Regions from separate parts of the Homo sapiens genome. Here region 1 is linked to region 2. The links come from fine-mapping of genetic effects on gene expression. A gene starts in region 2. The other region holds a variant in brackets. All regions are shown on one strand. Distances are between the middles of the regions.

Region 1 (5,214 bases), 54 kb after region 2:
TCTTTTAAATGTGTTGTTGAATTTGGTTTGCTGGCATTTTGTTGAGGATTTTTGCATAGGGATATTGGCCTTTACTTTTCTTTTTCGGATATGACTCTGGTTTTGGTATTAAGGTAATACTGGTGTCATACAATGAGTTTAGAAGTATTCACTCTTCCTCTATTTTTTGGAATAGTTTGAGTAGAATTGGTATTAGTTCTTTTTCTTTACTGGGAGACTACTTATTACAGCTTTGATCTCATTACTTGTTATTGGTCTATTCAGGTTTTGGATTCCTTTATGGTTCAATCTTGGTAGGTTTCATGTGTGTAGGAATTGATTCATTTTTTTTCAAGGTTTTCCAATTTATTGTCATATAATTGCTTATAGTAGCCTCTGGTGATCCTTTGAATTTCTGTGGTATTGGTTGTAATGTCTCCTTTTTCATCTCTGATTTTATTTATTTCAATGTCCTCTCTTTTTTCTTAGCTATGCTAGCCAAAGGTCTGTCAATTTTTCTTTTCAAAAAAGCAACTTCTTGTTTTGTTGATATTTTGTATGGTTTTCTTTATTTATTTCTACTCAGATCTTTATTATTTCTTTTCATCCACTAACTTTGCATTTGGCTTGCTCTTCTGGTTCTTTCAGATGCATCATTAGGTTGTTTATGTAAAATTTTTCTTCCTTTTTGATGTAGGCACTTATAGCTCATTACTGCCTTCACTGTATTCCATAGGTTTTGGTATGTTGTTTTTCCATTATCACTTGTTTCAAGAAATTTTAAAATTTCCTTCTTAATCTCTTCACTAGATTACTGGTCATTCAGGAGCATATTGTTTAATTTCCATGTGTTTGTATAGTTTCCAAAATTCCTCTTATTATTGGTTTCTAGTTTTATTGTACTGTGGTGAAAGAGGATTCTTGATATGATTTCAATTTTTGAATGTTTTAAGACTTGTTTTGTGGCCTAAAATAGGGTCTCTCCTTGATAATGATCCATGTCCTGAGGAGAATGTGTATTCTGCAGCCATTGGATGAAATGTTCTGTAAATATCTATTAGGTCCATTTGGTCTATAGTACATAATGAGTCCAATATTTCTTTGTCGATTTTCTCTCTGGATGATCTGTCCAACGCCAAAGGTGGGGTGTTGAAGTCTACAGTTATTTTTGTACTGAGGTCTCTCTCTCTCTTTAGCTCTAATAATATTTCCTTTATATGTCTGGGTGCTCCTTTGTTGGGTGCATATATATTTAAAATTGTTATGTCCTCTTGCTGAATTGACTGCTTTTTCACTATATGACCTTCTTTGTCTGTTTTTATAGTTTTTCTATTGAAAGCTATGTAGTCTAATATAATATAAGTATAATTACTCTTGTTTTTTTTTTTTGTTTGTTTGTTTTCCATTTGCATGGACTATCTTTTCCCATCCCCCTTAATTTCAGTCCATGTGTGTCTTTACAGGTGAAGTCTGTTTTTTGTAGGCAAAAAGTCACTGGGTTCATTGGGTCTTTTTTTTCTTTTTGATTCATTCAGCCAGTCTGTGTCTTTTGTTTTGAGAGTTTAGACCATTTACATTCAATGTTACTGTTGATGAGTAAGGACTTACTCCTGCATTTTGTTGTTTTCTGGTTGTTTTGTTGTCTTCTCTTCATTTTTCCTTCCTTCCTATCTTCCTTTTAGTGAAGGTCATTTTTTTCTGGTGGTATGTTTTAATGTCTTGCTTTTTATTTTTTTGTGTATCCATTGTCTGTTTTTAGATTTGAGGTTACCATGAGGCTTGGAAGAGAAAAGATGACTTTATCTTGTAACTTGAATACAATTCTTTGTATCTCTTTGACCATATTCATGTTTTCCTTTATATTTCTGATTATATGGAACATGTTTATAATAGCTGTTTTACTATCCTATTACTAAATTCTGCCATTTCTGAGTGTTTTCTATTGGTTGATTTTTCTTATTGTTATGGGTCATGTTTCCTGCTTCTTTACATGCCTTGTGTGTTGGTCACTGAACACTGTAAATTTCATATTGTTAGGTATTAAATTTTATTGTATTTCTTTAAAGAGTATCAGGCTTCGTTCAGTCAATTTACTTAGGATCAGTTTAACTCTTTAGTGGTTTGTTTGTAAGCTCTGTTAGGGTGGGTCCAGACAAGCTTCAGTCAGGGCTAACTTAGAGTCACTGCTAAGGTAATACTCTTCTCACAAGGCTTCCCAGTGCTCAATGTATTACAAGGTCTCTTCAGTCTGGCTGATGGGGTGGTGATATCTCTCCACTCTTGCTGTAGTTTCCAGGAATTATTCATCCTACTTCTGTC[C/T]GGTGTTTCTTTCTCTAGCCTTGTGAGGTGTCACCACAAAAAGGTACTGATCAGTACTCAGCCAAAGACTCAAAGGGATCACTCTGTGGAAGTCCAGAGGTCTCCCTCTGTGAAGCTCTTACCTCTTCAGTATTTTGTCCTACACATTTTAGTTGTCTTAATTTCCCTAAAGTTTAGTTTCTATTTGTTCAATTCAAGGAGACTCCTGGGCTCTATTTGGGTACTCTTCCCTGTGCTGTAACCTGGAAACTGCTTCTAGCAATAAGCTGGATCAGTTGTAGGGCGCAATTCACTTGTAGGGATTATAGTTTTATGCTGCTGTTCCCATATCTGAAAATAAATAATGCATTCTTTAATGTCCTCTGGATCCTTCTGGAGAACAGAATCATGTGGGGGGGTTCTTAGGCTCTCATAAATATATTGTAACACTTCCACTTCCATAAGCCTTTTGACCATTTCCTCAAAATACAGTAACACAGTTTCAGCATCCCCATATATTTTATTCTAGGACATTGCCATGTCAAGCCTATCCCAGCAGCGTATTATGACCAGTTACAAAGGCTTTGTATGATATTAAGCCTTGAATCATAGAAAAGTACTCCTATGTTAATACACTTGCTTCTATCCAAACTTATATTCTATCTTCCTTGTCCAACATCCCTCAGCTCTATCTCCCACATTTTCCTCTAAATCCTGCCAGTATGTAGTAGCATTAGGGGTTTATGTTGAGGGGAAAAGAGGGTGAATATTGGGAAGGACAAATATCTGATGACATTTTTATAAGATCTCCCTCCAAGGAGGAGGAAGCTTTTCTTCTCTTACAAGGGGAAGGGATTTGATTCTGTCACCTCAGAGGTCTCAGGACATTCTGGTGCTTTACAATTCTCATCTGTGTCTATCCAGATGTTTCTAAGGTATCAAGATGCCTCTTTGGTTTTTTCTATTAGGACTTGAATTGCTACAAGCATATAATCTATACTGCAGGTATTTCATATAGGCATTAAGTGATTCAGAACCAACTAATTTTTAGCATCATAAAATTAGGGTTTCACCGGCTTGTAGTTTGACAGGATACTTATTTATAAAATGATTTTCACAACAATCTTTAAAGGTAGGTATGATCTCGATTCAACCTTGGAGGAAACTGAAGCTCAGTAAAATTAAGTGACTAGCCCAAGGATGCACAGTGATCAATTGCAAAGAATGAACTCTATTTTGTCTCTGAAGTATGTGCACTGCCCATTATGTTACATAACCTTTCTTTATAGCTCCTATCAAGTCATTCTACATAAGAAACATCTTATGTGGGAAACACTTCAATCTAGCAACTGGTTACTGTAATGAAAAGATATAGTGAAACTAGATACTTGAATTGACCAGTTTATATATTAATAATTTTGTGATGGATTCAATTAAAGATTTTATGAAAACCTTGGAAGAGTATGAAATAATTATACAGTGTTTATTATTTTAGCTCTCATTTATCTATTTTGGATACCTGAACTTATATGTTAAAGAACATTAAGTACATATAGTTAGGTTGGAACTCAGCTGGGATTCAACTTGTTTGCTGAAACTTCAGATACTATAAACTAGTATCCTGTGTAGTCAGAATTATATTATCTTGACTCATTAACTTTATTTAGCATCTATTTTATACTACATACTGATTTTATTAACTTCTAATCACTCTTGTTTCACTTGTTTGAGATAGGTAAAGCAGAATTTATCTGGAGTTTAAGATTAAGGCTGACAGATTAAATCTGCTTCTGTTATTGTTTGTTTCTGATATTAAAAGAGACTTCTTATTATGACCCCAGTCCATCCAAATTGTATACTATAATGGATTCTATATGAATAAATTAAGGGATCTAGATTTTAATAGTAAAACCATTTTATAGCAGCAGTAGTTTTATAAATGGATATTTTACCTCTTAAACAAAATGTAATTGGAAAATAAAATACACTGTCATTCAAATAACATCTCACGTTATAAATAATCAGTTTGGATGCAGCTACAAGATTTTTCTGGCACAGAAGTAAATTAAACACTTTAGTAAATTGTCAAACTGATGAAAATCCTAACCCTGTGCATGTTGTTTTAATGGTGTAAGAATATGGACAACAAGATGTTTTTGTTCTTTTATTTTTATCAGAGTAAATGGAAGAATAGTGTCACAGACAAAGGTTCTAGGATTTTCCTGGGAAAAGGAGGTTATAGCAGTTAGAAACGCCAGCAGTAGCTTACACCAATAATTTATTAAGATTTTTGTTTTTACATTATTGGCATTCCAGGGGTAGGTGGTTACTGTTGTAGGCTCATCTTCTCAACTCTCCCATCAGGGACCCAGTTACTTTCTATCATTCTGAACTGTTATTCTTCGCGTGTACACCTTCATTCTCCTGTTGGTTGCCTCACGGCTACGAGATGGCTGCTATAGGTCCAGCCATCAGGAAAAATGGGGAAGGAGCAGGACATGTAAGATCCTTTATCAGGCCACCTTCACATATATTTTCTAGACAAGGATTATATCACCGGGCCATATTTAGTTGCAAGGAGACTGGGAAAGTGAGGAACAGAATTGATTTGGCTAATCACAACTCATCTCCAGAGAATAGGCAATTTCTGCTTCCAAATAAAGTTGGATACTGTTCAGGAAGAACAGGCTGGATATAAACCGTTTGTGTTTTGGTCAGCAATATGTTCTGGTTTTGGTTTGGTGGGAAACAGGAAGCTTACTGAGGAAGGGAGACACCTGGAAGTAGTCTTAATCTGGCCATAAGGACCATGACACTCTAATATTATTTGATGGTGTGTGGGTTTCTTTTTTTCCAGAGACATCTATAAACATGGCTTTGTTACTAAGCCAAAGCCAATTATCTTTCAAAGTGATCTTCAGTTTGCTATTAGCTTCC
Region 2 (5,214 bases):
TTATTGAGGTGTGGAGAATTCAGCAGAGGAAGAGGTCAAGGTGGGATGTGGATAGAACAGTTAGGAAGCTGTTGCAGCAGTTCAGGTGAAATGGACTGGGCTTTGGTCAGGTGGTTGGCCATTGAAATACAGAGACATTTTATCATTTGGGATTTGGAGTAGCTGTAACTGAAACTCCAAATTACAGTGGCTTGGACAGATATTTATTCCTCTCTCGCATAACTGAAATCTGTACATAGCCTAGAATTCAATTGGTGGCTCCACCATTCTTAGGGACCAGATTCCTTCCATTTTGTCAATACGTGACTTCAACCTCCTCATTGACGGTGGCTGCTTTAATTCCAGTCATGTTGTTTTCATCCCAGACAACGTGAATGATGAAGGGAGGAAAAAAGATACATCCCTTTCCTGTAAGAGAATTTCTAGAAATTATACGTGATGCTTGCAGTTACAGCTCATTGGAAAGCACTCAGTAGCATGGCCCCATGTGATTACAATGGAAGATAGACAATAAAATGTTTACTCTAGGTTACTACAGGTCTAGTTGAAAATCAGGACGTCTATGACTAAGGTTGAAAGGAACAGAAAACGTTGATAAATAGCCAACATCTGTAATACAAGTAGATAAAGTTGAGACTTGTTTTGGAAATAAAGTTAGCAGGATTTGATAACTGATTTAATGGGGGTTGGGTGAGGACAAGAGAAGGAACAAATCTCATTTCTACTTTTCTGAGACAATCAATGGTAGTACCTTTTTGGAAATGAAAAAAATGAAAAAAGGGGCAGGTTTAGGGCAAAGAACAAAAATTAATTAGCTGTTGGGAGCTTCCTCAAAATTATAGAGGGAGCAATTTATCAATTTTTTGTTGTTGTTCCATTCTAGAGATGTTTTATGCCCATATAGGAATGTGGGTGTGCATACCTGATATGTGTGTATACACACATATTTTATTTTTACAAAAATGGTAGGGTTTAATTATACCATTATATACCTAAAATCCTTTACTTGATATATATTGGGGATCTTTCCATATAATTGCATGAAGAAGTGCCTTACTATTTTTAATCATCACAGAGTATTTCATTGTATGGCTTTGCCATAATTTATTTAACCAGTTCTTATCTGTACATTTGTTTCTGTTTTTTTCAGATTATAAAAAATGCTGCAATGAATGTCTACACTTTAAAGTAAAATTGTTGGGTTTAGGGGCACATTATTGAAAATTTTGGCTTGCGTATTTTTTTCATAGAGGTGTCAGCAATTTCTACTCCCACTGGCAATATATCGGGATGCCTGTTTTCCTTTACTCTTGTCAACTCAATGTGTCAAGCTTTCTGATGGTTAAAATAATATTAGATTTTTGTTTTAATTTGCTTTTTCTTAGCAGAAATGAAATAAAACACTTCACATGTTTAAAATGTTTTATTTCTTTTTCTAAACATGTCCTCATTTTTGCTATTGGATTCTTATTTTCTTATTTAATTGAAGGAACTGGTTATACGTTAGATTATCTGTTTTGCAAATATTTTCCTGTTTATCCTTTTTTGTCCTCATAGTAAATTTCTTTCTATAAATTCAACTTATTTACTATGAATAGCTTCTTGTTATTAAGTAGGTTTAATACAGTTACCACGTTGGTTTGCATGCTTTAAACTTTATTCTCCTCTGTAAAATACATCATTTTACAGAAATGAGCTCATACTGAATATATCTTTTAGGTTTCTGCTTTTATTCTCACTTAATAATAAAAATCTTTCTAAGTCATTCATTGTTTTAACAAATTATTTTTAATTGTTTCATACATTATTCTGTCATTTGGAGTTAACAATAATTTACTCAAGCAACCCTCCCGCTGTTGCATAATTAGGTTATTTTCATTTAAAAAAAAACCGATATAAGCTACAGCCATGGTAGTTTCACTATGATAAAGTCCTCAAAGTAAAATTTGGAGGTCATTGTGCAAAAGTACTCTCCTTGTGCTTCAATGCTTCCCGCAGCTAGACCAAGCTCCGCGGGCAGGAGCTGGAGTCCAAGCTAGGGGAAAGAAGGACCTTCCGGGCCCATAAGGCGGGAGGCAAGGAGGGCCCCTGGGCAGCCCCGCGCTTGCGCGCCAATCACGGCCGTTATGGATTTCGATACGTTACCAAACGGTCTCCTACAAAGGCAGAAACCGTTTAAATATTTCAGAAGGATTGATTTTCATTTTGCAAATATAATACTGGTTCATTTTCTTTCTCTTCCTCCATCCATTCTACTATTGAACATAAAACGTGTCAATAGTATTGTAGTTCAGCATGTATCTCAGGATATTAAAAGGGCAGTGTGACTCAGCTAGAAAAGGATGAACTTTCCCCAAAGATAAAGTGACCTATGCGGTAAGTCCTACGGGACTTCATATCCTCATTGGAGAGAGGTTTAGGGTGTTTCTAGTTGTAGCAGGGTTAGTTGCACCTTAGGTTGAAGCAAGATTTTGCTACTGGAAATTAAATATGGTAAAAGGAGGTGCTCTCGGCCGCCAATTTGACAAGGGATGGACCGTGCTGGTTTTGTATCAACTGGCCTAAGCTAGAACTTCATTTCCATTATGTCTCCATATCAGGTTTGGCCAAAAGATATATCTATGCCAGATTTGGGAAGCAGAAGTGAAAGAGTAACCGTTACTCTGTGTAGCTGGTGCGGAAGGAGAGAAGTGTAGATGTACTGCTTGTGGGCTCTAGCTTGTCCTCGCCTGCCTCTGTCTTGACTCCAGCTGGTGTCCTTTTCTGCCTGCCTTGCTGACCAACAGCAGCCCCAAACCCACAGTCAATGCAGAGGCAACAGCCTTCCATGCACTTCTTCGCCAGCTCCTGTTGTGGTCTCACTCTTGCAACTGGATGTTCCCAGTTCTCTATATGTAACCTGTGACTTTTCCTTCACTTGACTACTTCAGGAGAGGTGAATAGAGACTTTTCTCCAATTCTCCACCTTCCAACGGTGGCCTTACTTCCCCGTCTCCTCCCACTATTGTGCAAGGTCTAATTTTTTAATCCTTAGACTATAAACTCTGTGGAGGTAGCCACCTGTTTAGTTTACAGCTATAGTCCCAGCGCCTGGCACCCAGAAGACACTCATTAAATGTTTGAAGAATTATTAAAGCCCCCAATAATTGATAGCCCTTATTATTTATCCAGTACTTAGATTCTCAAATATGAAACACGAACAACTTGGTTTCATTATCTGGCTTAAAAAGCTTATCAGGGAAAAAGTTTTTAAAAATATATTTTGGGCAGCATTTGAGTCATTTCCCGCACCCCCAAACCTATGTCAGTCGATAGGAAGTCTGAAATTGCCTTGAGTTCTGTAGGCAGGACACTTCAGTGGGCTGAAAAGTGTTGGGCTTATACCTCACTGCTCACTGCTCATCATAACTCTTCCCCTCTTTGCTTGGATTTTTTTTCTTAAATATGCCATGGTCAGCAAAATTTTTATTTCCTTTCTTCTGTAAAGTGACTTCTTTAAAAACCCTAATTATCTTATACTACCTAAGTTTTAAATTGTCTGAGAGAAATATTTTCTTTTTGTTTTACCTAAGAGTGTCTTTTCAATTTTCTTTTATTATCTTTTCAAAACCATATCACTCAACCATCTACAGCTTAGTGTGCAGCATTGTGGTATGAATATGTGGCTGGAAAGTCAGGGATTTAAAAGAACTATGAAATATATATTTTGACTTTTGGGGATAATTTTCTGGGAACAGATTTTTAAATACCTCAAGCCTTTTTTATATACTAATATCCTACCAAATATATGCCATTTTAGCAGCTCATAATAGTTATTAATAAAATATTATGGTTGTTATTCTATTGTTTAACTCTTCCCCCATGTCTTCTCATGAAAAGCTCATATACATAATGTATATTGTATTCTTCCATACTGACTATAACATATTGACTGTTCCTGACCCTTCTGTTTAACCAGTTTTAGCATTTTTCACTTTCCTCATTTTCAGTCATTCTTCTCTTTTTGAAGTATTCCCTGTTCACTTCCATCAGGTTGGAATTTCACTTTGGCCTCACAGTCTACTCAATCTCTTTAATGTCCCATGAGCACATCTTTCATGGCATCTAAGTAGGCTACCATGTAATTCAATCATTTTTCACACTTCTTAAATGTTAAAAAAATTAATACATAAACACTTAGAAAAGTAGAAAATTCTTCATTTAATTATATTAACTCTCAACAATCCTTAAAGTTCTTTAATTGTAAATTTCATTAAGGTAACTTAGGTTCTTGTTCATAAAGTCAAAAAGTTGTATGTCATGTAATGCAAATTACACCATTATCCACTCTTCTCCATCTCTGATTCTCACTCTCCAAAGGCAACAACTTTCATCTCTTTTAACTGTTTTTTTTTCTATTGTTTACTGTCACAAGCCTATAATATACCTCTCATACTATTTATTTTTCAGTTTGGTTCTTATCTATTGCCTTTCTTCTACAAAAGATGAGGAGTTGGCTGTCTTACAACTGGGCATGTAGCTTCTTCTTTCATTTCTTAATCTTGCAATATCATATTTTTAAAAATCTTATCAGTGTTTAGTGTTTATTTTGACAATGTAAATATTATTCACAGATGAACTTGTAGTGTATTAGGTTTACTTCTTTTTTGTAGACCTTTGCTTTTGTTTTTCCTTGACTATGCATTGCCTTGATTTTTGTTTAGTTAGTTTTCTAAGTAGTTATTATCAGTTCATTCTGCCAAATTCTGACAAGTCTTAAGTGCCTTTTGATACATTCAAATGAAACTATCCAGTTTCTTTTATTTTCCTTTTTTTCCTGGAGGCCACGGTCCTAGGTACATTGCCTTCATGAGCTCCTTCCTCCATAAAAAATAAAAATTATTTTACAGCCACGTTGGTATAAAGGTAAATATGATCAGGGTGGATTTATTATCATATAGTCACTGTTATTATATTAATTTTATCTCCTAATTTTAAAGGAAATTAAAATGACGACATTTTTGTAAATTCCTAACAGCGTCATGGGCCCTCAAGCACTATGCCTACTCAGCCTAATGGATGAGTCGGCCCTACGGAAGGCATTCTTTGCTTCTGAACCCCTCTTTTCTCCTGTTCCAATCTGGACTACTTATTCTGTAGGCCCTGAGATGTTTTCTTACTGTTATCCTGACAATTCAATTTTTTTCTCTCATATATTGGATCCCCTATTTCTGT

The links. PIP is the estimated chance that this variant, and not a neighbour inherited with it, causes the effect.
Region 1: its variant is the best candidate, but not a certain one, in a credible set for the expression of LINC00865 in whole blood (INTERVAL, PIP 0.74).

What each region holds. Positions count from the first base shown.
Region 1 is chr10:89,881,093-89,886,306 of GRCh38, forward strand. All of the region lies in intron 1 of LINC01374 (long intergenic non-protein coding RNA 1374), which reads left to right. Among named protein-coding and RNA genes, the nearest start is that of LINC01374, 30 kb to the left of the region's middle. The variant C/T (reference allele first, on the strand shown) is at 2,299.
Region 2 is chr10:89,827,370-89,832,583 of GRCh38, forward strand. It overlaps LINC00865 (long intergenic non-protein coding RNA 865), which reads left to right and starts at 2,124. Exons shown (of 4, transcript NR_038382.1): 1 at 2,124-2,376; 2 at 2,601-2,935. It overlaps LOC105378424 (a long non-coding RNA gene), which reads right to left and starts at 3,452. Exons shown (of 3, transcript XR_946196.3): 1 at 2,663-3,452.